Linked DNA regions of Homo sapiens. The protein of the gene in region 4 purifies or fractionates together with the protein of the main gene of each other region. This does not show direct contact. Each region holds a gene or a part of one and is shown on either strand. Other genes may lie near its edges.

Region 1 (3,500 bases), on a different chromosome or scaffold from region 4:
TGAGAACAAGAAGAAAAGCGTAATAAACCAAGGACTCACCTCTCCTACACTTTTCATAGAGCTACCAATTCGGCTAGATGTTCCATGAAAACGGTCAAGATCCCAGCGGGGAATCTTGGTGACCATGTAATCCAGGCTAGGTTCAAAACAGGCTGATGTCTTCCCGGATACGACGTTCTTAATTTCTGGAAGTGGGATTCCTAGGGCAATCTTTGCAGCAATGAATGCCAATGGGTAGCTATAAAAAGAAGACAAATTTATTTTTTTTTCTTCGAGCAATTATTGAAAACAGACCAAAACATAAATTGGTCTTTCTTAAAATTTCTGGTATTATTCTACTTCAGGGTATAAGACACTTGATTCTCTGTTCTGCATCAATATTTAGTAGCCACTTGCGGAATAATAGGAGTCATGATACAAAGTATAGAGGCACAGGTCACAGGAGAATTTACTCTCTGTGCACTACATGCATTGCTACAACGCTCAACCTTCACCTCTTCAACCCAAAATCGATAGCTTTATTGATAAATAAAGTTTAACCTTTATTTGTATTTAACCTCCACTAAGATGAGAATCTGCAAAATATTTTTTGAGAAAATATATACATATCTGTACATATACATATCTGTACCTAAGAATACAGTGGAGTTAGCTAGTACAAGAGAGTACATAATGGTCAGAAAATGTAGGCATTTCAAGTTTGGGTCCTTGCTCTGTCTCCAAATTATCTTTGAACTTTGGGCTCCTTACAAAACTAACACTTTGAGAACTTGACTATCTTCATCCAGAATGTCAGTTTGGGTTATTCTGTTTGAGAAAATAATTCATAGAACTATAGAATTAAAAATGAGTTCTTTAGTACAACTTCCACCTAACAAATGAGGAAACTGATAAAGACAATGAGTGATGTGCTCAAAATCACACGGTCAACAGAAGAACCAAGTGAGAATGCAGAATTGTGACTCCTGTACAGGGCAACATGCCTTTCACCACTCCACGCAGTGCTGTGGAACTACGTAAAAAAAATATAAAGAAGTAAATATTGTGTTCATTTAAATGCCATAATTTAAGTGTAAGGTGCTAAATATATTATTAGAAACCAAAGGTTTTGATTACCTTTCCCTCCAATCATGCCTGCTAGTGGCTGTTACATAGACAGCAGATGTATTTGTTTGGTTGTAACAGTTACTTGTGAAAAAATTCCGCACTGTTCAGTCTTGTGGAGTTTTGATAAAATAAAAGTAATGTGTATTGCATGCTTGAGTCAAGTGAGCTATATTTTCTGTCAACTATTTGCTATAGGGCTATACACCTGAAGAAAACAGCTGAAGACTAAAATTAAGGATTAATCTGCACTTTTAACAACATCTGCAAAGTGCAATTAGGAAGCAGATTTTTCACAGCCTGCTTTAGCCACCTAGATTTTGATTCGTTTAGATTAGCCTGCAAACAAAGCCAGCTAGCAATATAATTTACCTCAATCTGGCAACAAGCTCATTAATAATCATGTCCTCAGGGTGCTATAAATGATTTGGAGCTAACATACAGAAAAAGGGAACATAGTTTGTAAATGCAGTACAGTCTTCCACTATCTGTCAATTTTTCATTTCTATCTGAAAAGAATCTGCAAACCCATGGTCAATTATTCTGGTCTTACCCAGTGGCTTTTGAGGCCAGAGCAGAGCTTCGGGACAGTCTGGCATTCACTTCAATGATGCAGTATTCCATTGAGGTAGGATGAAGGGCAAACTGAATGTTGCATTCACCCACAATGCCCAAGTGGCGAACAACATTGATTGAAGTACGTCTCAACATCTGAAACTCGGCATTGGAGAGTGTCTGGGCAGGAGCCACAACAACTGAGTCACCTATATATCCAAGAAGCACTCATTACTTGGTGGCATATTGAAATAACCAACTTCAGCGACTTAACCATCTACTTGCACGATGCAAGACATAGAACAGTCTGAGGGTTTGTTGGGATATATATGTGATATCAGGTATTCCCCCAATTCCTGTTTTGCCCATATTACTCTGATACAGTACTTTTAGAAACCTCTCTAACCTTTCCCAAGTTCATCTATCTAGTAAGTAGCTATCAAGGCTTCAATCGTCTACTTACTAGATTGACTTCAACTTCCCTGCTCTTCATCTCAAATTATTTCTGAAGTTCTTCCTTTCATTGAATATTATCACTCAGACTGGCTCATCAGCTGGCTTTCTGTATCTCATCCCTTTCCATCTTCACTTCCCTCATCATAGCCCCTTATATCTGCAATCTTAGTCTCCATCCCTTCTGCCTTCAAACACGCTCAGATCTTCACTGCCTCCGGAAGTCTTCTCCCAACATTGCCAGACAACCATACAAAGCTTCTCTCTCATTCTTTACATGAATGAGCTTCTTGAAAGTTTGCCAATTCTGCTTACCACTTGATACCATGTAATTCCTTTTAATAGAGCTCACAGAACTGACTTTGCAATGAAATTGTTCTCTTGGACATCCAAAAGAGCCAAATTAAATAATCAGTCTTGGTCTTGCATAGCATTTGATACTGCCAAAAACAAAGCTCTTTTATAAAATAGTTCTTGCATTGGCTTAGTTGGTACAGTACTACCTGATTTTCCTCTTAACTCTTTATTCTCCCCTTCTATCTTCAACAGTAATACTTCCTCTTTCCCCTGCCCTATAAATCTAAATGTTTCCCAGAGTTCAAAGTTCAACCCTATTCTCTCCTCTTTCTATACCTATGTCCTTGAATACTTTGTCTATGCCTACAACTTCAATTTCCCCTTTTATGCCAACAGTTTCCAGTGTCTTTGTATCAACTTATTTATTTCTATTTTATTTCTTAAATTCCATCTCCACATTCTCAACTCCCTTTTTTGACAGCTCTGCTCACACCCCAAATTTAGCACTTTTAAATCCTAAGTTATCATCTTTGCCCTCTTATCTAACTAGTGTACTTTTCTGAAAAACTTATTTCTATTATTGTGCCTATTTTCTCATTTACTGGGTGATTACCAGCTCAGTCTGCTTTAAACTGTCTCAACCTCCCTTCTTATTTCTCAACACTAAGTTTTATGGATCTTATTTCTACCATATTGCTTACCTTTGGCTCTTCCTCAATTAACTCAGTGTAATATCCGCCTTACTTCACAGGGTTTGTGTGAAGATCAAATTAAATGTGAGAACATTTTCAATACTGTAAAATACTATGCTTGTCCAAAATGTTATCACTAGTCTGTCAACTAGAAATAGTAATTTAAAGGCAACAACTTTATAAAGACTGCCTTGGCCATCAAAGACATGAACTGAAAGCATTACTATAGTTCTTGAAGATACTTTGCCTACCTGTGTGAACACCCATGGCATCAACATTTTCCATGTTACAGACAGTGACACAATTGTCATCAGCATCTCGAACCACTTCATATTCTATTTCTTTCCAACCTGTCACTGACTTCTCCACCAGAATTTGGTTGGTCATAGCAAAGGCCTA
Region 2 (2,768 bases), on a different chromosome or scaffold from region 4:
CAGTTACCTAGAGGAGGAATGCATTTTGTCTCCGGAGCGTATTACCTTTTCCAAACCCCTCAGGGAAACTGGCAAGTGAAGAACAGGTGGGAGGTCTCTCAGTCGACTCCTTTTTTTTTGGAGATAGAGTCTTGCTCTGTCGCCCAGGCTAGAGTGCCGTGGTATGATCTCAGCTCACTGCAACCTCCGCCTGCCAGCTTCAAGCAATTATCTTGCCTCAGCCTCCCGAGTAGCTGGGATTACAGGCACCTGCCACCATGCCTGGCTAATGTTTGTACTTTTAGTAGAGAGTCAGGATGGTCTCGATCTCCTGACCTCATGATCCACCCACCCTGGCCTCCCAAAGTGCTTGGATTACAGGCGTGAGCACCGCGCGCGGCCTCTCAGTCGACTCTTGAGAGGAAATCATAAAGGCCAGTGTGCATGGCGAGCTCGTTTTGCACCAAGCACTGTGCTAAACATTTTATGTACTTTATCTCATTGACTCATCCTAGCAACCCTTCATGGTAACTACTGTTATTCCCTCCACTGGCAGGCGAGGAAGTTGAGGCCTGAGAGAGGTTAGTTTAGTTTGGTGGTTAAGAGCACATGCTCTGTGGTCATGCTGGCTGGCCCTGAATCCTGGCTCCACCACTTAGTACCTTGTGACTTTGGGAAAGGTGCTTCCCCTCTAAGCTAAGTCTCAGTTTCTCCACCTGTAAAGAGAGCATGATACACCCAGGCACAGTGGTCCATGCCTTCTAATCCCAACACTTTGGGAAGCTGAGATGGGAAGATCCTTTGAGGCCAGCAGTTCAAAACTAGGCTGGGAAACATACTGTCTTTACAAAAAAATGTTTAAAAATTAGCCAGGCATAGTGCCACGCACTTACCGTCCCAGCCACTCAGGAGGCTGAGGTGGGATCGCCTGAGCCCAGTAGTTTGAGGCTACAGTAAGCTGTGATGTCACCACTGCACTCCAGCCTGCATGACAGAGCAAGACCCTGTCTCTTTAAAAAAATAAAATTAAATTTAAAAAAAGGTGTGGTAACAGTACTGATCACAGGCATCCTCTGGTAAGCATTTCCTAAATGCTTCCCTTCCCTTTCCTGAGGCATACTTCTAGTATGCAGGGCAGCCAAATACAAGCTCAGGTGTGTCCAGCCTCAGAATCTCAAACCTCAGCTGCTTTGATCCACTGCTGCTTTTGCTCAAGAAAGAAGCAAAGCTTTGAAATGGAATGTTTCTGAGTCACAATTTGATCCATAAAAACATGAGCTAGACATACAGAGGGTCCTGGCTAAGTCTGACAAGTGCTGGCATACTTTGGATTCTGTTAGGCACCTTCCTGCCTGCTGCCTTGCTCCCTCCGGCTCTGGCCCCGGGGGTCTGTGGCTGCCAGTAGTTGCTGGAGTTAGGGGCTCCAGCAAGCTCATGTGGGCTCATTTCTGCTCTTAGCCAACCCTTTCTTCTTTCCCCATTCTTCCTCTTTATGCCCCCTGCCCCTGCAGTGAGAAAAAACGCAAGCCTGCATGGACCGATCGCATCCTGTGGAGGCTGAAGCGGCAGCCCTGTGCTGGCCCCGACACTCCCATACCGCCGGCGTCACACTTCTCCTTGTCTCTGAGGGGCTACAGCAGCCACATGACGTACGGCATCAGCGACCACAAGCCTGTCTCCGGCACGTTCGACTTGGAGGTGAACTTCTGGGCTGCCTGATACTTGCCAGAGGAATAGCTATGCTGGCCACATCCCCAAGCCCTCCATCCCTGGATTCGAATGTCAGCCAGTCCCCCAGGGGAGACCTGTGGAGGCCATGATTGCCTTTCCTGCCAGGTCGGATATCCCAGCTCCTCTTAGGAGCCGTTGATGGCTCTGTCTGTCAAAACCGTGTTCAAACCCTTTGTGAAAAGGTTTCCATTTCCTTTGGGTATTCTCCCTTGGGGCTAATGAGTTCCATTAGGCTTATTACCCAATGTGAGAAGTAGGACTTCTTTTATTTGTCCTAAATCTATCTGGATCAAGTTGCAACGGGCGCTCCCTCCATCCCTGCGTCCTTGTATCTTGCTATCTGAATGACCAAGGTGGTGTTGGCCTCCTTCAGGCTGCTGCCCCTCAGCCTTCACGTTTTCATACAGGTTTACTGGCGTGTGTGTGTGTGTGTTAGGGTCTCGTTCTGCCGCCCAGGCTGGAGTGCAGTGGCGGTATCATAGCTCACTGAAGCCTCCACCTCCTGGGCTCAAGTGATTGATCCTTCCACCTCAGCCTCCCTAGTAGCGGGACTACAGGTGCACGCCACCACGCCTGGCTGTTATGTATTTTTTGTAGACACAGGGTTTCACTATGTTGCCCAGGCTAGTCTCGAACTCCTGGGCTCAAGTGATCCTCCCAAACTGTTGGGATTATGGGTGTGAGCCACCGTGCCTGGCCCCCGCTGGTATCTGCGTTGTGTTCTTGCACGTTCACAGCTGTTCTCACCAGAGCATCCCCCCATGTGGGGCTTTGGGTCAGATAAGGCGGGAGGCCTGAGAGCAGCTGCCTGGCCGCCTCCTTAAGCCTCTCAGCCGTGCCTCTGCTCTCCGCCATTCCTACCCCCCAGCGCTGGGCCCCATGGGATTCCGACAGGGCCAGCCACCCGCCGACTGGTGTTCGGCCCTCTTTCCTGATGGCCAGCCAAGGTCCGTTGGAGCAGCCCAGTGGAGTTCCATGCCCACCCCCTCTGGGTGCCCCACCTTCCCCACTATGTTGGAAGGGCACAGTGAGGAACACTTGGCCTCAGAGGAGGGAAT
Region 3 (3,500 bases), on a different chromosome or scaffold from region 4:
TCAAGTGATCTGCCCACCTTGGCCTTTCAAGGTGCTGGGATTACAGGGGTGAGCCACCGTGCCTGGCCAGGACAAGTTTTTAAGAGGATGTCTGGAATGGATTTAGATAGGTAGATTTAAACAGCATAATGAAGAGTGAAGAAAAGAGAAAAAGGTATGTTTGAAGAATAGTAAGAAAATATATGACTGGAGACATGGGTTGAAGGCAAATCCTAGTGTCCTAAAAGCCAAAATGAGGATTTAGATCTTCTTAAAAATAAATTGGCAGCATTTTGAGAGCTCTGGATAAGCCACAGCAAGATTTGGTAGTTAGTAGACTTTTTAACTTAGCAAAGCATCTTAACTCTGCTTGCCCCACCGGTTCCTTCCTTTTTTTTTTTTTTTTTTTTTTTTTTTTTCTGAGATGGAGTTTCACTCTTGTTGCCCAGGCTGGAGTGCAATGGCACGATTTTGGCTCACTGCAACCTCCACTTCCCAGGTTCAAATGATTCTCCTTCCTCAGCCTCCTGAGTAGCTGGAATTACAGGCACCCGCCACCACGCCCGGCTAATTTTTTGTATTTTTAGTAGAGACAGGGTTTCACTATGTTGGCCAGGCTGGTCTTGAACTCCTGACTTTGTGATCTGCCCACCTCGGCCTCCCAAAGTCTTGGGAGTACAGGCGTGAGCCACCTGTAGGCACCTCTAATCTTATCAACGAGGACTCTGGGGTTCAAAGAGGTCAAGTGACCTGCCAAAATCCTGGAAAGACCCTGCAACAACGTTCTTTTCAACACACCACATCCTTTCTACTTGAACCATTTCTAACCAGTGGAATGTGCCCTGGTTCAGATTCTTGTTCTCTAGGACTGTAACCATCCCAGTGATGATAGCTGCCATTGGTTTATCAGTTTTGCCAGGTATGGCACTTGTCACTTTATTGTCACTCCTCCCAGCAACCCTGCAGGACAGAGGAATTATTAAACTTGCTTGACTAGTACGGAAACTGAAAGAGTGGAGGGGAGGGGAATGCTAAGGGCAGAAATGAGGGGAATGTGAGAGGGTGGAGGGAGATTGTGTTGACTTTGAAAATGAGAAGGGAAAAGAAGATTCAGAAGAAGATAGGACAGGGAAAGCCAGCTTGTGTGCCATTGAATCACCACGTTAGGGCCTGGTGCTGTTGGGTGGCCCACCTCGTTACACCTGGTGAGTTTTCAAAGCCCTCTGAACCTCAGGGTCCTCATGAATAAATTTGTGTTGTTATTTATCATGCAGGGGTTTATGAGGATTAAGCGTGAAATGTACATAACAAAATGTCTTGCTCGTTGTATTTTATTCCTTCGTGTTTTGACTTGAAGAGGTTACCGTGGTTTTCAATTTCAGGAGACGAAGTTTCCGTGCATTATGACCCCATGATTGCGAAGCTGGTCGTGTGGGCAGCAGATCGCCAGGCGGCATTGACAAAACTGAGGTACAGCCTTCGTCAGTACAATGTGAGTGATCTGAGACCGTGCCAGTGACCTTGATGTGTTTGGTCAGCACCAGAGGTCAGCCTTTGTCTTTGGCAGGGCCTTGGTCTCGTCAGCATATTTTCTATTTCCATCAATTGCCCAAACAAAATAGTTTCACATGGGAGAATTTTGCGTGGGCCAGAACAGGGTTTGAGGACTTCTTCATTTCAGTTACAAAAGAAAGATTGCAGAAGTAAAATTGTTAGTGTCAGTGCTATGCTTCGGTGAAATCCTATTCACTCTGTAGATAAGGCCAGCTATACATGGTACCTTCGTAGGTTTTTTATTTTTCCTAAGAGCTGTCCACAGTAGAAAATACTTAGGAAATAAAAGCAGATGTTTTCCTGAATGTTGTTTTCGCTACCCAGTATGCCTGCAGTCCAGTAGTTTTTCTCTAAAGTAAAATAATTATGTTCAGTTTCATCCCTTTAATAGAGTTTGTTATTTTTCTGTAGAACATTAATTTCCTTGGTGCAGAAAGTCCCATACCACATTGATTTGGCTCATAGAAGGATTTATTAACCCAGTTATTCAACTTGTTATTGTTAATAATTGATCAAAGCTCTGGTCTCTGTGGCTCCAACCACACTGGCCGCCTCACCGCTTCTGAGACTCACTCAGCATGGAGCCATGCATTCCTGTCCAATCTTCCAGAATGTTCTTCCCCCACATGATTGCAGGGCTCCCTCCTGACTACCCTGCTCTCCTGCTCTGAGCCCTTTCCCAGGCTGCCCCATTTAAAGTATGACCTTTTGTTATTCTTTATCCTCTTAGCCAGCCTTCATTTTCTTCATAGCATGTAACATTATATTCAATACCTGTTTACAGATATTGTTACTTGTTGCCCTAGAATGTAAGCAGAGACTGTGAAGGCAGGGACATCATATGTTTTGTTCCTCACTATGTCCCCAGTGCCTGGATCAGAGCCTGGCACTTAAGAGATGCTCAGGAAATGGCTGTTAAATGAATGAAGGAATGGATGAGTGAATGAATGAACCCAAAGCTCAGATAGCTGGTTTTACTTTTGATCCCATTTATTGGTGTATTTGGGTTAATTTTATACCTTTTAAAATTTTTGTATCGGTATATAAAATTTGGATTTTATTGTTGGAAAGAAGCTCTTTTGAGGGCATTTAATCCTATCCTCTCCCCAGTATAGCAATCCAGCTTGCTGTTTGCAGTCTTCCTATTCTGTGGAAGTGTTCTGAGCAGCAAGTCTTCGATACCTTGCAAATGAATTTCATTTATGTTTCTTAACATTTATTATGTTCCTAACCTGAGTCAAGTAAGTGCCTCGGTATTTCCAGCATCCTCTTTGTCATATTAAAATGTAATTTTTAGTGTCAAGTCCAGATGGATATAGTAATAGCGGATGGACATAGTGATAGTGAGATGGTTTTTTTGTGTTTTTTTTCCTGAGAATTGTCCTGTTGCCACATGGTACCTTAGTAGGTTTTTTATTTTTCCTAAGAGTTGTTCACAGTAGAAAATACTTAGATAAAAAGAGCAGATGGTTTTCTGAACATATTGTTTTCCCCACTCAGCAGGAACTGGGGGTTTATTCTCTTCCTAGATTGTTGGACTGCACACCAACATTGACTTCTTACTCAACCTGTCTGGCCACCCAGAGTTTGAAGCTGGGAACGTGCACACTGATTTCATCCCTCAACACCACAAACAGTTGTTGCTCAGTCGGAAGGCTGCAGCCAAAGAGTCTTTATGCCAGGCAGCCCTGGGTCTCATCCTCAAGGAGAAAGCCATGACCGACACTTTCACTCTTCAGGCACATGGTATGGAAGGCTTTTCTCTTTCCTCTGCTTGTCAAGTTTTGCAAATCATCATTGAACATGCTTTTCTTTCTGTATGGCACACTGACCTCTCTTTTCTCCTCTCAGTGACTGACACCATTCTTTTCAGATGTGTTTTTTAGTATGAAGGAAAGCTCTTCACTTACCATGGATGCACCCATAAACACTATTTAACCCATTAACTGGAGTGTAACTAATCACCT
Region 4 (3,500 bases):
CTGATGAAAATTGTTTAAATTAGGGCCAGGTGCAGTAGCTCACGCCTGTAATCCCAACACTTTGGGAGACCAAGGTGGGGCGGGGGGCAGATCACTTGAGATCAGGAGTTCGAGACCAGCCTGGCCAACATGGTGAAACCCCGTCTCTACTAAAAATACAAAAAAATTAACTGGGCGTGGTGGCGCACGCCTGTAATCCCAGCTACTTGGGAGGCTGAGGCAGGAGAATCACTTAAATATGGGAGGTGGAGGTTGCAGTGAGCTGAGATCGCACCACTGCACTCCAGCCAGGGTGACAGAGTGAGACTCCGTCTCAAAAAAAAAAAAAAAAAAAAGTTGTTTACATTAGGAAAAACAATGCTACTTTTTTTTTTTTTTTTTTGAGATGGAGTTTCGCTCTGTCGCCCAGGCTGGAGTGCAGTGGCATGATCTCGGCTCACTGCAAGCTTTGCCTTCTGGGTTCATGCCATTCTCCATCCTCAGCCTCCCAAGTAGCTGGGACTACAGGTGCCCGCCACCACACCCAGCTAATTTTTTTGTATTTTTAGTAGAGACGGGGTTTCACCATGTTAGCCAGGATGGTGTCGATCTCCTGACCTCGTGATCCGCCTGCCTCGGCCTCCCAAAGTGCTGGGGTTACAGGTGTGAGCCACCACGCCTGGCCAACAATGCTACATTTTAAACAGAAAGCTAAATTTAAGAGTTACATCATTACTTTTCTGAATTACATCATTTAAATCTAACCTTTGGGAGAATTCTGGAAGTTCTACCTGCTATTTGTAGGTGGCCTTCGTAGTGGACGATCCCGACGTGGGGCTTCAGGGTGGTGAACGGGTAGGAAGCCACGGCGGGTCTGGCGTTTGAAATGGCCCGGAGCAGTGAGGACTTCCCGGCGTTGGGGAATCCCACCTGGGGGAAAGAGGGAAGACGGTGGCACGGCCCGCGGCAGCACCTTTGTTAGCGCAGAGTCTGTAACTAACTGGGATTGGAGGGAGGATTTCAGGGCTGGGGGAGTCACAAGGGCTCATGCTCACGACCAAGTCAGCAGTGTACTGATGGGAAAAAGGTGAGTCGCAAAGCTGTTCTCTTCCAGGCCACTGGCAAATCCCCATTGAGAAAAGTGGATTTTCTAGAGCTGAGTGTGTGCAGATGCTGTTGGCAGTGGGGACACCTACCATTCCGGCGTGGGCCACCGTCTTGAGCTCCAGGTGGAGAACTCGCTGCTGTCCTGGCTGTCCAGGGGTACAGGTCACAGGGGCACGGTTGTTGTTGGCCAGGAAGAAGCGGTTGCCTTTCCCTCCTGCCCCGCCCAGCGCGGCAATGTACTCATCTCCCACGCAAGACAGGTCGGCCACAACTCTGCCTCCCTCCTTCACCAGCGTGCCCACGGGGACCTGGGGAACAGCAGGCACTCATCAGCTGAGCTCTACCAGCAGTGAGGAAAGGAGGCCTTAACCCATTCCTGAAGCAAGCGCTAAGGAAAGAAGACAAGAGCGGACTGTGCCCCGGGCAGCTGCCCGCCCCACTCACCTCTGCCAACAGCTCCGGAGCACAAGGAAAAGGTCCCAGTGCTCCAGGGCTTTCACGGGGCTGCGTACACACCCTTCTGACTGCACAAAGGGCTTTTTCAAATAGTGTTTCTAAAACGTTAGTGTGAACTGAAGCACCAGAAAAAACATCTAAGAGACGAGTGAATTCAGCTCGCGAAGGAGACGCAGGCCCGCTGGGTGCCAGTGGCCTCCCTCAGTCAGAGGTCGGCTCATGGGGTCAGAGACGGAGGAAGCGTCCGTGCCGTGGGCTCCCTCTTTTTAAAAGAGAATCGTTTCATGACTTTTTCACTAGACATGCACATGGTGTGAGACCCTGGTACAAATGCCCGTCTGGGTTTGCTTTGAGGGGTGGGGCTGCTTTCCCGCTGTCTGCCAGCCTCCGTTTCCATTGTGCTGTTTCCTAGCTGTGGGCATCAAGCCACAGGGGCCCCGTGGGTCACACGGTGGCCCCCAGGAGCTGGATGATCCAGAACAACGGGGACAGGGCCAGGTCCGGCAGTCTCGGCTCACCCGGATGTAGAGGACGGCGCCACTGCGCCCGAAGCAGTTTTTACTCCCTCCATCTTCTCCACTGAAACCCTGGTACCGCGACAGGACCGACGACAGGGACTTGACTTGCTGGTCAACTAAAGCAAGAACAAGAATCTCAGTCCCTTTGTGTTACGACAACCATGGCCTATTGCTGATGTGTCTGGGTCCAGTTTAAGAACCTTAAAAATAGGTATGGAAGCATGGAGTGAGGGTGCAGCAGAAGTTACAAAACCAGCAAAGTGATTTTTTAAAAATGAAATCCTTATTTTCCTTCAAAAAGTGCTATCATTTCTGAAAATTTTTAAATTTCTTATTTTTTACAGTAGCTGTATTCTATGCTTTTGTTGTGAAGGCTTCACTCCCAGCTCGCTATGCGTCTATGCTGAGTGTGAATATAACCAGCAGCCAGCGGCACCCACCGAACCCACCACACAGGCCTCGTGCTTTCACGCGACCGACATGTCAGCTTCCCTGACAGGAAACTCTCTGTGCTCCTGAAATTAAACAAACAAAACAAAACATGTTCAAAGTTGCTTTTTCTTTTTTTTTTTAGACAGAGTCTCGCTCTGTCAGCCAGGCAGGAGTGCAGTGGCATGATCTTGGCTCACTGCAACATCTGTGTCCTGGGCTCAAGCAATTCTCGTGCCTCAGCCTCCCAAATAGCTGGGATTACAGGCATCTGCCACCACGCCTGGCTAATTTTTCTATTTTTAGTAGAGATGGGGTTTCTCCATATTGGCCAGGCTGGTCTTGAACTCCTGACCTCAGGTGATCCACTCGCCTTGGCCTCCCAAAGTGCTGGAATTATAGGCATGAGCCACTGCGCCTGGCCTCAAAGTTGCTTTTTTGGGTGTGCTACTTAACTATGAATATCCATATAATTTTTTTTTTATGTTTTATGTTTTTATTTTTTTGAGACGGAGTTTCACTCTTGTTGCCGAGGCTAGAGTGCAATGGCACGATCTCAGCTCACCGCAACCTCTGCCTCCTGGATTCAAGCAATTCTCCTGCCTCAGCCTCCCTAGTAGCTGGGATTACAAGTGCCCACCACCACGCCCAGCTAATTTTTTTTGTATTTTTTGTAGAGACGGGGTTTCACCATGTTGGCCAGGCTGGTCTCGAACTCCTGACCTTAAGCGATCCACCCGCCTCGGTCTCCCAAAGTGCTGGGATTACAGGTGTGAGCCACCACGCCCGGCTGAATATCCATATAATTTATAAAAATGATATCCATACATCAGGGTTTTTTTTGTTTGTTTGTTTTGTTTTGTTTTTTTGAGATAGGGTCTTCCTCTGTTGGCCAGGCTGGAGTGCAGCAGCACAATCGGAGCTCACTGCAACCTCGACCTCCTGGGCTCAAGCCATCCTCCTGCTTCAGCCCCAAGTAGCTGGGACTATCAGTGTGTGCCACCACATCTG
Region 5 (3,500 bases), on a different chromosome or scaffold from region 4:
CCGGCTCCTGGCCAGAAGCACTAAGTGCCTCCCCAGGCCAAGGCTCCTCCCCAACACCCAAAACCCTGACCCTGCCGCACGGCTCAAATAATTCCCATCCTCGTGCCCCTCAAGGCGGGCTATGGGAAACACCTGCACACAAGCAGGAAGCGCCAGAACGGGCCACGCTACTGTCAGCACGAGCTCAGGGCTGGGGAGCGCCAGAACGGGCCACGCTACAGTCCCGTCAGCACAAGCTTTAAGATTTTTATGCACAAATAAGGGTATGTGAATTAAGAAAAAAATTAATTACCCAACAGACTCACAAACAATAGAATCTTCAAATTTTTTCAACTTATTGTTCAATTATTTCAAGAAAACACTTCTATGCTCTACTCTGATAACATGGTTCTGAAATTTGAAATCAATCTTTGACATTGTAAAGTTCAAGCTTCTACCCTCTCCCACCAGTTACTCTAAATTAATGAGGTTTGAGCTTACGAAAAACAAAGACCAGGCCGGGCGTGGTGGCTCACACCTGTAATCCCAGCACTTTGAGAGGCCAAGACAGGCAGATCTCTGAGGTCAAGAGATCGAGACCATCCCGGCCAACGGGGTGAAACCCCATCTCTACTAAAAATACAAAAATTAGCCGGGCGTGGTGGCGTTAGCTGGGCGTGGTGGCATGTGCCTGTTGTCCCGTCCCCGCTACTCAGGAGGCTGAGGCAGGGGAATCACTTGAACCCAGGAGGCGGAGGTTGCAGTGAGCCAAGATCAAGCCACTGCACTCCACCCTGGCGACAGAGCAAGACTCTGTCTCCAAACAAACAAACAAACAAAAAACAAACAAACAAAAACAAAGATCCAGCATGGCTCAAAGGAGAGGCCACAGGGCTGCTGGGCACGACCTCAGCCCAAGAACGCTGCGAGGCCAGATGTTGCTAAAGAGGAGTTTCCCTGGTAGGCAAGACGGGTCGTGAGCGTGACGTCTCCCTAAATTAGGAGGGGAAGAGGGGACGTGACAGTCAGTGCAGCAGGTGACCTTGGGGACCAGATGAGCCACAGGGGCTTGAAGGGAGAGGGCCAAGAAAAGGCAGAGGAAAGAGGCTGCTGTGTGAAAGAGCTCTGAGAAGCTCAGGCCAGAGCCAGGTCACTGAGACCCACGACTCCCATCCCCTTGGGGACAGCCTTAAGGGCCTTGTCAGCAACCAGGGACACAGCTCGGGCGGACCACCCACATCAAGCGTTCCTGGCTGGAAGGCACAGCTTCTCTCTGGAGTTACCTGGCCTGGTCACCTCACCAGGTCCTCCTTGGAGAGAAGGAGCAGGAAACCTGCACTGGTTAAATGTACCTGGATCTTTCTAGAGGCACAGTGAGGCCCTTAGCATCTATGAGCTATGTCTGTCGCCGCTTTGTGGACAATGGAGCTAAGGGTCACAGAGCACCCGTGATCACATGACTTGTGCCCAAGGAATTAGGGCTGGCCCACCTCTGGGCAGCTGCAAAACCCACTCGTCCCCAGCCTTCCCACCAGACCAGCCTCGTTCAACAGATGCAGAGCGGGCGCCTCCACAGCCTTCACTGCACTGTTTTAAACGTTTCACACCAACTACCTCATCTCAAACTCAAAACTGCCAGAACTTAGGAGATAAATACTGTTACCTCCTTTGACAGATGCAAAGCCCAGGCCCAGAGCGATCAAGTGTCCAGCCAGAGGCTACCAGGCGGTGAGGGGCAGAGGCCCAGAGCCCACGATCTTAACGGGCCATCTACAGGCCCCAGACCCGGCTCCTGCCCTGTCCTGGCGCTCCCAGCTCTGCCGACTGTGAAGCCACATGCAGTCTTCACTGTCACACTGGTGCCCTGAGCTCTGCCCCCACAGCCAGGCCCTCTCCCTCCCCAACCTATGACTTCCCAAGGCTGTCAAGATGTAAAAAGTATTCCTTGTGCTCCTCACCGACTCCCTTAGATGAGTGAAGGAAGCTTTTTCCTGGATTTATCCCTGGGAAGTGACACTGCTCACCATCCTCCAGCCAGAAAGTCAACACTCCCAGCATTGACCATGGTGGCCGGGAACTCTCTAAAACACCTCAGACTCAGTAGGAGGTGCAGGGGGACGGCGTTCCCTGCTAAGCTCCGGACACTGGAGTGAGTGGGAGTTCCCAGACCCTCTCACTGGCCAGGCTGACGTGTGTGCTGCAGGGCTGCAAGGAGCACAACCAGGAGACGGGAAGGGCTGCGCATGGATCTGATGAAACTGAGAGGACCCTGCTTCGGCTTCAGGATCTAAACCCTCAAGAGTTATTTGTACAAAATGATAAGCAGCTAACCTCTGCAACACATAAAGCACTTGTTTAAGAAAAGGATCAAAACTGCCCCAAACATACAGACAGACCGAAAGAATCAGCACACACGGAGAAAACAGTTCAAACCCTGTTGGTCACCAAAGCCCAAGTTCCTGTGGCTTCAGCGTGGCTGCCAGGACGCAGAGCAGTTCTTGCAGAGCTGCGGAGACATGATGCAGCCCAGGGGCAAAACCACAGCTGTAATCTACTCTGGGGAATCGCCCCAAGAAACAGCCAGGGGCATCCCTTGCTCAAGGACATTGTCAGGTACAGGTTAGCTGGAAAGCTGCTGAGACCTCGGGTGCCTGAGGGAACAATCCCAGACCTGCTGGGTATCAGCATGGTAACCCGTCGAGCCTGCCTCACCTCTCCTGATGGAAGGGACGCTCCGTGCACTCGAGCCTGCCTCACCTCTCCTGACGGAAGTGACACTCCTCACGTCCAGCTCCAGCTTCTGCACCAAGGCGCTGGGGTCTATCTTGGTCCTGGCAAAGATGTTGGTGTTGATGAACGCCCAGTCCTAATGTCCCCAACAAAAACGGACGAAAAGAAGAGGTGTGAGACTTGCTCTGTGGTTTCAGAGGGACGTTAAAGGTGAGGAGAAGATGCAAGACAAGAACCTGGATTCCCCAGCTTCTCTGCCCGGGAGGACCTGGGGGAAACAACCCTCACCTCCCAGAGCAGAAGCCTCCGGTTCCAGAGCTCCAGGGCAGACCCGCAGCGCCCAGGCCCACCTGCTCCCTGCCTTCAATCACCAGACGGGCTTCACTCCTGGTTCTTCAGGAGTCAGGACCAGTATCTCAAGAACCAAATTTCCTTCCCAACCATTTCGTCTTACTCTTTCTACAACATTCTCCTGTGTCACAGAAGAAACCTGCAGCTGAGCAGATGAAGGATAGGCAGCTCCCAGCCTGACAGCTCTTTCAGCTCAGACTGACCACATCCCATCAGAACTAGTCATCTCAGCAGCCTCTCTGCCAGGTCTGGTTCTGAGCCACACTCATCCCTGCATGAAGATTTCAGTTCCTCCAAGTCAGCTGCCGACCAAACCGTGAGGAGACAGAACCCCCCCGTCCCTGACCCCCGTGCTGCCCAGCCCATTCATGTGCAAGCCTCACTGACCTTGGCAGGGAAGGCAGCATCGACCTCAACAGAGGTTTCTGAAGGGGGTCAGA
Region 6 (3,500 bases), on a different chromosome or scaffold from region 4:
TGACTCTGGCGTCTGTTGAAAGACTGCAACTTCCAGGGGAAGGATTGGACTGAAAATTGGAGTTAATTTCAGCTCTTAGCATAGTAGCAGCTACCCATCCCCCACCCCAGCTCCATGACAGATATTTCCGCAAGTGTTCCTGCAGCAGTTTGCACACAGCTTGCAGGAGCCGGGGTGGGCATAAAAGGACCCTGTCCTCCAAATATTGAGAATCTGTGCTTGCTGACTGCTGCTTCTGATCACAGAGGTGCAAAGAGATGGGTGGTCACTGTTGCTACAACTCCCCACACTGTTGCGAGGCTCTCCTGCTTTGGGCTGAACTGACTTCCAAGGAATTTAAAGGGCTGACATCTTTTTACCATCTTCATTTTTTTTCTCTTTTTCTACTTTTGGGAGCCAGACGTTAACAACTAGGACACTCAAAAACAACTGCATATGCAGGGAAAATTAGAAAGTGATTGCACGTGCCCCTGCAAAGGCTCAGAAAAGACCTAAGGAAGACCTTAAGGTTACATCTCAGGCTAATCCTTGGTGCAGGAAGAGACTACAAGAATAAAAAAGACAAAAACAATAACAGAAAACAGCAAACCCTAGGGAAGAGGGAGAATCTGACTTCTAGAGTTACCAGAGAGCCATCACGATGTGTTGCACAAGGACTACCGAGAGCACAGTGTACCCTTAAGGAAGGCATTGGCCATCTACAGATGCCTTCAGTTTGCCCAACACTGTCCCCTTTACTTAATGACCCAGGAATCTGCTGTACCAAAAAAAGGTACAAATGGCTCCTGTCTCCCACGGACCTCCACACACACAGTCCAACCTTCTAGGATGCCCTGTGTACTCTCTTCTCTATAAAGACAAAACCCCCTCTGAGCAGAGGGCCCCAATGATACTTAACAATGATCACTCTGGCCTCACTCTAGACTCTGTGGACATGGCCCCTAATTTATGATCCTCAGAGGGCCTTCTAAAGACTCCTGAGCTCTGCTGGCCCTTACTACTCCTATCTCCAGCCCTCAAGTCCATCTGTGCCACTAGGGTATCTATAGCCACTAGGTCTTTCCAGAACACACTACTCAGTGGCCACTGGTCCTGTGCCCACCCTATTCCCGACCTGTGCTGTCTGACATGGAGGCCAAGTGGTCCAGTGCTTCCTCACTAAGCCGAAGCACAATGCCCATGAATGTGGCTGACTAGGACAGGCAAGACAAACAGATGTGGCACTTACAGAGTGTATGATGTCCACCATGTTGTAGGCTTTGGTTGATTCCAAAGGGACAATTGTGTCAAGCTCAGGAACCAGACGGTCACTTTAGGCAGAAAAAAGGCAGGTATAGTCAACATAGGAAGAGCCAGTTACCTTTTGTGGGAATGGGGTGGGAAAGGAAATGGGGTGACACGTCATAGGGACTGGGCCAGTTCTGTCCCTGCTGGGCTTACAAAGCAGTCACCAAAGAGTCATTCCTTTTTAACCACCATATTAACTGAACCTGGGACAAGTATCAATCCAAAAGATCTTCTGGTTCTCTTTTAGAGGAAAAAATGAGTTTATTCCTCTAAACGTTATTCTTTCATTTATCTTCTCTGAATACCTCCTACATTCTAGGTACCGTGTAGGGCACTGAAGGACATTATAGTGAACAAGACACAGCCCTGGGAGAGCCCAGCCCAACTTCCTGGAACATTAAAAGAACAAGGACTTGGAAATGCAAAGGCAGAGCTCTGCATAAACCACTGTGGGTTCACATTCCCTGTTAGGTTAATCTGCTAAAGCTCCTTCAAAAAGCAAAACTGCAGGCCCTCTGGGCAAAATCACCACAGAACCTGTCACATGCAGGCTCATGGACTCTCTCCTTCCTCCTGCATCCAAGTGTCTCAGCAGAAAAACTAAGCCAGAGCCCACTCCCACTCTACAGGAGGACCCAGCAACTTGCCCCTCTCCAACCTCTTCTCTCCAATAGGCTTTCATTCCCTCCTTCCCAGTGTGGGCAGCCAGGGGCTACAGTGACCCTGAGACGTACTCCTGGGCTGAGGTTTGGCCTTGGGTCAGGCCATGTGTCCATCAAGCCCAACTTCGCAAAAAGCTCTACGCTGGAAAGAAAACTAAGGGTAGCCCCATCTGCTAATAAAGTCCTCCCTTTTTACTTGTCATACATATATACACATATACATATGTGTATATATGTATGTGAACACATGTGTAGATATACATATATACACGTGTAGATATGCATGTATGTATATGTGTAGATATGCGTATATGCATATATGTGTTGATATGCATGTGTGTGGGCATGCATATATGCATGTGTGGGCGTGTACACATGCATATGTGTGGGTATGCATATATACACATGCATGTGTGTATACATGCATACATGTATATATGTATGCATATGCGTATACATATACATATGCATACATATACATGCATACATATGTACGCATATACGTACATACACATGCATGCATATACATACATATGCATGCATATACATACACATGCATATACATACATACACATGCATACCTATACATACACATGCATATACATACATACACATGCATACCTATACATACACACACATGCATACCTATACATACACATGCATATACATACATACACATGCATACCTATACATACACATGCATATACATACATACACATGCATACCTATACATACACATGCATATACATACATACACATGCATACCTATACATACACATGCATATACATACATACACATGCATACCTATACATACACATGCATATACATACATACACATGCATACCTATACACATGCATATACATACATACACATGCATACCTATACATACACATGCATATACATACATACACATGCATACCTATACATACACATGCATACATATGCATATATACATAAGCATACATATACATACATATGCATATACATAAGCATACATATACATACATATGCATATATACCTATGCATGCATATGTATGCATGTGTATGTGTGTATGCACAAATATGTATACATGTATGTATACATATATATGCATATACGTACATATGCACACATGAACATATGTATATACACATACACGTATACATATATACGCATATACACATGCATATATATATGTATACATATATATGGATATATATCTCCCTTGGAATCATATGCAGAAGAGGTATAGCTGGGCCAAAGCGGGCTATGCAGACATTTCTGGGCTCCTGGGCCATAATACCTTCAAGTGATGTCCTAAACCCTTCAGGAACTCCAAACTGTATACTCAGAAAGGCTATACCCACAGCTCTGGACCTTGTGACCACTCTCCCCTCCATGACTACACACAGTGGGCCACTGGGTATGTCCCTTGTGGAGTGGGCAGAGGCAGACAGAGTGAGGCCCTGGCAACACAACTCTTCAGAGCATCCCTGGCCCAGACCAGGCCCCACAGGAAGGAGTCCAGGTTTAAGCTACAGGATAGCATCTGAAAATGACCTCTTCCC
Region 7 (3,500 bases), on a different chromosome or scaffold from region 4:
CTCCGATGGGCGTGGAGACCATGCGATCCACCTCTCTGGAACTGTAGGGAGAGGAGCTATGGGTTTGACTGTCCCAGATCAGTCTCCCTGGAACCAAGGGCATGGCACACCCAGCCAAGCCAGGGGGTAGGCTGCTGACAATGTGTTAGAGACCACTAGGTTTCCTCCAGATCTTCTTGTAAGCCTAAAATCCCCCAGACCCTTTTCCCAACCTCAAGCCTAATCCCAAGGCAGCAGGACAGGGACAAGGTTACACCAAGCTGGAGCAAAGGGCCCTCCTTCGCCTTCCCGGGAAAGGTGAGATGCCATAGTGAAGCCTGGGAGAGCCTGCCTGTGCAGACAGACAGATCTTACAAAGCAGGACCATGCCTTCACCCCTAGCCCCTGCCTCCTGGAGAATAAACAGGTCACTGGGGTCCTTCCTGAGGAACCAGGGAAGCGTGCCTGGACCCTGGGCTTGAATCCAAGGTCTTAGGATTTTAGACTCCTTGGTGGGCCAGTTTTTCTCCTGAGGGCCTGAAAGCCAAAGACAGAATAGGAAAGGGATAAAGGAGAGGGCAGATGGAGGCCCTAAGAGAGGCAGCTGGGCGGCCCCTGTTATTCCACAGGCCTGTAGGTGTTCAGTGCCAGGTGCTAAAGATCCTGGGCACCTGCAGATGAAGAAGAAAGCCCCTATATGCCAAATGGCACCTGGGCTCCAGCTCCCACTCTCAGATGATGTCACAAGGCAGGCAGGCAGTTTCTGTCTCCAGGGAATTAAGAAGCTGGCTGAAAGCAGCCAGTTAAGGCAAAGGGGCCAGATGTCAGATAAGCAAGGGGCACCAAGAGCCTGAGAGTACTGAGCTGGGGATGTTGAGTGGAGGAAGCAGCCAGCTCGGGACCTGGCTCGGGTTCTAGTCTGGGGCCGGGACTCTTCACCTCTCACATGTGGCTACCTATCCATTTCAGTGCACAGGTGGAAACAGGTCTGGGTAGAGGCCTGGGCAGTCACGGGAGTAGTAACCTACTCCCCAGTTTTCTCCATCGGCCTTTCAGGAACTACCCATCTCCTCCCAGCCCTGCCAGGTAAGAGACAACCCCTAAGTAAGGGCACGTCAAGCTGGAGGAGAACCTGCACTTCCATTACTGCTCCACTTAACTTTCCCCACCTTTTATTAACTGTGGCACCTGAGCCAGGCATGGTGGCTCACACCTGTAAAGTCTTGCCAGCACTTTGGGAGGCTGCAGCAGGAGGATCGCTTGAGCCCAGGAGTTCGAGATCAGCCTGGGCAATATAGGGAAACCCTGTCTCTATGAAACATTTTAAACAATTAACCAGGTATGGTGGCGCATGCCTGTAGTCCCAGCTACTCCGGAGGTTGAAGGGGGAGGATCACTCGAGCCTGGGAGGCAGAGGTTGCAGTGAGTCATGGTTGCACCACTGCACTTGAGCCTGGGTGACAGAGAGAGGCCCTGTCTCAAACAACAAACCAATAAAACCCAGTGGGACCTGGCAAGTTATCTGTTTACTCTTTGGCTCGAAGGGGATGAAGAGACTGCCTTGCCTATTCCATAGCAGGGCCATGACGTTCAAGCGTGAACAGGCCTGCAAAGGTGCTTTGCGAATGGTGAAGTGCTCTGTAGTCGACAGGCATTTTACCATCCATTCATGGCATTTATCGACCATGCTTTCGACACACATTCAGTGAGCACCCGTATGTGCCAAGTACTATGCTAGGACTAGAGATAGAACAAGCCACAGTCCTTCTTCTAAGAAGCTCCCTGTCTCTGGGGAAATTAGACATATTAGCTCTTCGTGGGTGGGAACAGCCTAGAAAATCAGGAAATGGGAGCCATGAGGCAGACTGTGGGGGGAATCCCAGCCCATCTGAGGCCCATTGTCTGTCCCCTCAAAGCTGGGTTAAGGCAGCCTCTCTTAGACCTGGGCCCTGGGGCCACCCATACTATGGCCTCCTCAGCCCTACGGAGTACTTAGCCAACATTTATTCCTCCAACAAATATTTAGGAAACACCCACCACAGAGAGGGCCCAATGGTAAAAAATGAACAAAGCCAAATACAGTCCCTGTCCTTGCAGAGATAAGGGTCTGGTGGGAAAGACAGGAGTGCAGTCAACCTTGGTAATGATGAATGTATGTTTAGAAAGCTGAGATAAGGAAGGGGCCGTGGTCCTAGGAGCACCTGTAAGACGGAATCTGGGATCACCTGGGGCTCCAAGGAAAACTCCCTTAAGAAATTTATGCCTAAGCTGACAGCTGAAGGGTGAGGAAGTATTAATCATCAGAGAAGGGAGAGGAGGGCTTTTCCAGCAGAGGAGAGCTTGTCTCTGTGGCTGGGGCATGGAAAATGAAAGGGAGTGCTGTGAGAACGGGAGGGTGACTGGAACTTGAACCCAGCTGAAACCAAAGGGTCCAGAGCAGAGGACATTGGGCCTGGAAGAATGAGGAGAGCCCCCAAACTCCAGGTTCTGGGGTTGGGGTTTTCTCCACCCATGGGCCCAAGTGGACCCACATCATTTATGAAGTGAAGAGGGATGGATGGATGTTGGAACCAGGATCTGTGTTTATGGGCTGATCCCTCCCTTGTCCCTCCAGGGACATCAGAAGGAACCTTCTCAACCAGTGTCACTCCCTCCTCCAAGTGACAGTTTTTCAAGATGTGGTCCATGGAGAGCTGCTTCGGAATCATCTCAGGATCTCACAAAGAATGCAAATTCCTGGGCCCCTGCAATGCCTACTCATTGCAGAGCTTCTGGGGAGTGGACCGGGAGAATCTGAATTTTTAACAGAATCCCATGTGATTCTGATGTGGGACTGGGTGAGGATTCTATGAATCACACTTTGACAACCACTCTCTTGGCCATCTAAGCCACCCCAACCGCCTTTGACTCATCTATTCAAGCAAGCTTTAGTGAGCACCTACTATGTGCCAGCCCTGTGCCAGGTACTAGGGATACAGGGATGGATAAGACACTGCTCCCAGCCCTCTAAGTAGCCATAGTGTGGTAGGAAGAGAAATGTATGTAAACAAATCATTTCAACTCTCGGATTAAGGCTATTCGGTAAAGAAGAGAACCAAAAGAAGATAACCTACTCTCTCCTAGGGGTACATGGGACAGAAGTGGGGTTTCTTTCCCCACACTCCTCACATCTCAACTACCAACCTCAGCTCCTCCTGCTTCTCCCCCTTGTAATTTCATTCAATTCCATATGTCTATGAAATCTGTGGGCCCTCAGGGTCTACTGAGATCTGCCAAGGTCTAGAGTGGAAAACTGGTCCTCTTCCCATCCCACTAGTGATGAAGGAAGATGCTGCATGTCCCTCCAAACCTCCACACCCTCCTGGCCAGAGATGGCCACCAATGGTGTGGTCCTCAGCCTAGGGGGCCCTGGGAGCTTCTACCTGGATTCCACCAGGGACTGCCTAGCCCATATCCAATGATGGCCTGGAAGGTCTGGAAGCCAGAGCACATCTTCTCCTATGGGAACAGAATTTGCTCTG

The links.
Region 1: the proteins of MTG2 (region 4) and CPS1 purify together in Homo sapiens (affinity purification with mass spectrometry; one large-scale study listed by BioGRID and IntAct). This does not show direct contact.
Region 2: the proteins of MTG2 (region 4) and INPP5K purify together in Homo sapiens (affinity purification with mass spectrometry; one large-scale study listed by BioGRID and IntAct). This does not show direct contact.
Region 3: the proteins of MTG2 (region 4) and MCCC1 purify together in Homo sapiens (affinity purification with mass spectrometry; one large-scale study listed by BioGRID and IntAct). This does not show direct contact.
Region 5: the proteins of MTG2 (region 4) and SLX9 purify together in Homo sapiens (affinity purification with mass spectrometry; one large-scale study listed by BioGRID and IntAct). This does not show direct contact.
Region 6: the proteins of MTG2 (region 4) and PCCB purify together in Homo sapiens (affinity purification with mass spectrometry; one large-scale study listed by BioGRID and IntAct). This does not show direct contact.
Region 7: the proteins of MTG2 (region 4) and ACSF2 purify together in Homo sapiens (affinity purification with mass spectrometry; one large-scale study listed by BioGRID and IntAct). This does not show direct contact.

The regions. Positions count from the first base shown.
Region 1 is NC_000002.12:210,605,099-210,608,598, reverse strand, and holds part of CPS1 (carbamoyl-phosphate synthase [ammonia], mitochondrial isoform b precursor), read right to left. Parts: intron 3,498-3,500; coding exon 3,353-3,497; intron 1,869-3,352; coding exon 1,658-1,868; intron 239-1,657; coding exon 40-238; intron 1-39. UniProt on the Homo sapiens protein: Involved in the urea cycle of ureotelic animals where the enzyme plays an important role in removing excess ammonia from the cell.
Region 2 is NC_000017.11:1,496,845-1,499,612, reverse strand, and holds part of INPP5K (inositol polyphosphate 5-phosphatase K), read left to right. Parts: intron 1-1,490; coding exon 1,491-1,677; intron 1,678-2,768. UniProt on the Homo sapiens protein: Inositol 5-phosphatase which acts on inositol 1,4,5-trisphosphate, inositol 1,3,4,5-tetrakisphosphate, phosphatidylinositol 4,5-bisphosphate and phosphatidylinositol 3,4,5-trisphosphate.
Region 3 is NC_000003.12:183,036,997-183,040,496, reverse strand, and holds part of MCCC1 (methylcrotonoyl-CoA carboxylase subunit alpha, mitochondrial isoform 1 precursor), read left to right. Parts: intron 1-1,361; coding exon 1,362-1,471; intron 1,472-3,062; coding exon 3,063-3,279; intron 3,280-3,500.
Region 4 is NC_000020.11:62,196,528-62,200,027, reverse strand, and holds part of MTG2 (mitochondrial ribosome-associated GTPase 2), read right to left. Parts: intron 2,576-3,500; exon of another isoform or gene 2,501-2,575; intron 2,177-2,500; coding exon 2,061-2,176; intron 1,395-2,060; coding exon 1,176-1,394; intron 910-1,175; coding exon 771-909; exon of another isoform or gene 745-770; intron 1-744. UniProt on the Homo sapiens protein: Plays a role in the regulation of the mitochondrial ribosome assembly and of translational activity. Displays GTPase activity. Involved in the ribosome maturation process.
Region 5 is NC_000021.9:44,943,029-44,946,528, reverse strand, and holds part of SLX9 (ribosome biogenesis protein SLX9 homolog), read right to left. Parts: intron 2,846-3,500; coding exon 2,692-2,845; intron 1-2,691. UniProt on the Homo sapiens protein: May be involved in ribosome biogenesis.
Region 6 is NC_000003.12:136,298,840-136,302,339, reverse strand, and holds part of PCCB (propionyl-CoA carboxylase beta chain, mitochondrial isoform 1 precursor), read right to left. Parts: intron 1,311-3,500; coding exon 1,229-1,310; intron 1-1,228. UniProt on the Homo sapiens protein: This is one of the 2 subunits of the biotin-dependent propionyl-CoA carboxylase (PCC), a mitochondrial enzyme involved in the catabolism of odd chain fatty acids, branched-chain amino acids isoleucine, threonine, methionine, and valine and other metabolites.
Region 7 is NC_000017.11:50,457,218-50,460,717, reverse strand, and holds part of ACSF2 (medium-chain acyl-CoA ligase ACSF2, mitochondrial isoform 2 precursor), read right to left. Parts: intron 42-3,500; coding exon 1-41. UniProt on the Homo sapiens protein: Acyl-CoA synthases catalyze the initial reaction in fatty acid metabolism, by forming a thioester with CoA. Has some preference toward medium-chain substrates. Plays a role in adipocyte differentiation.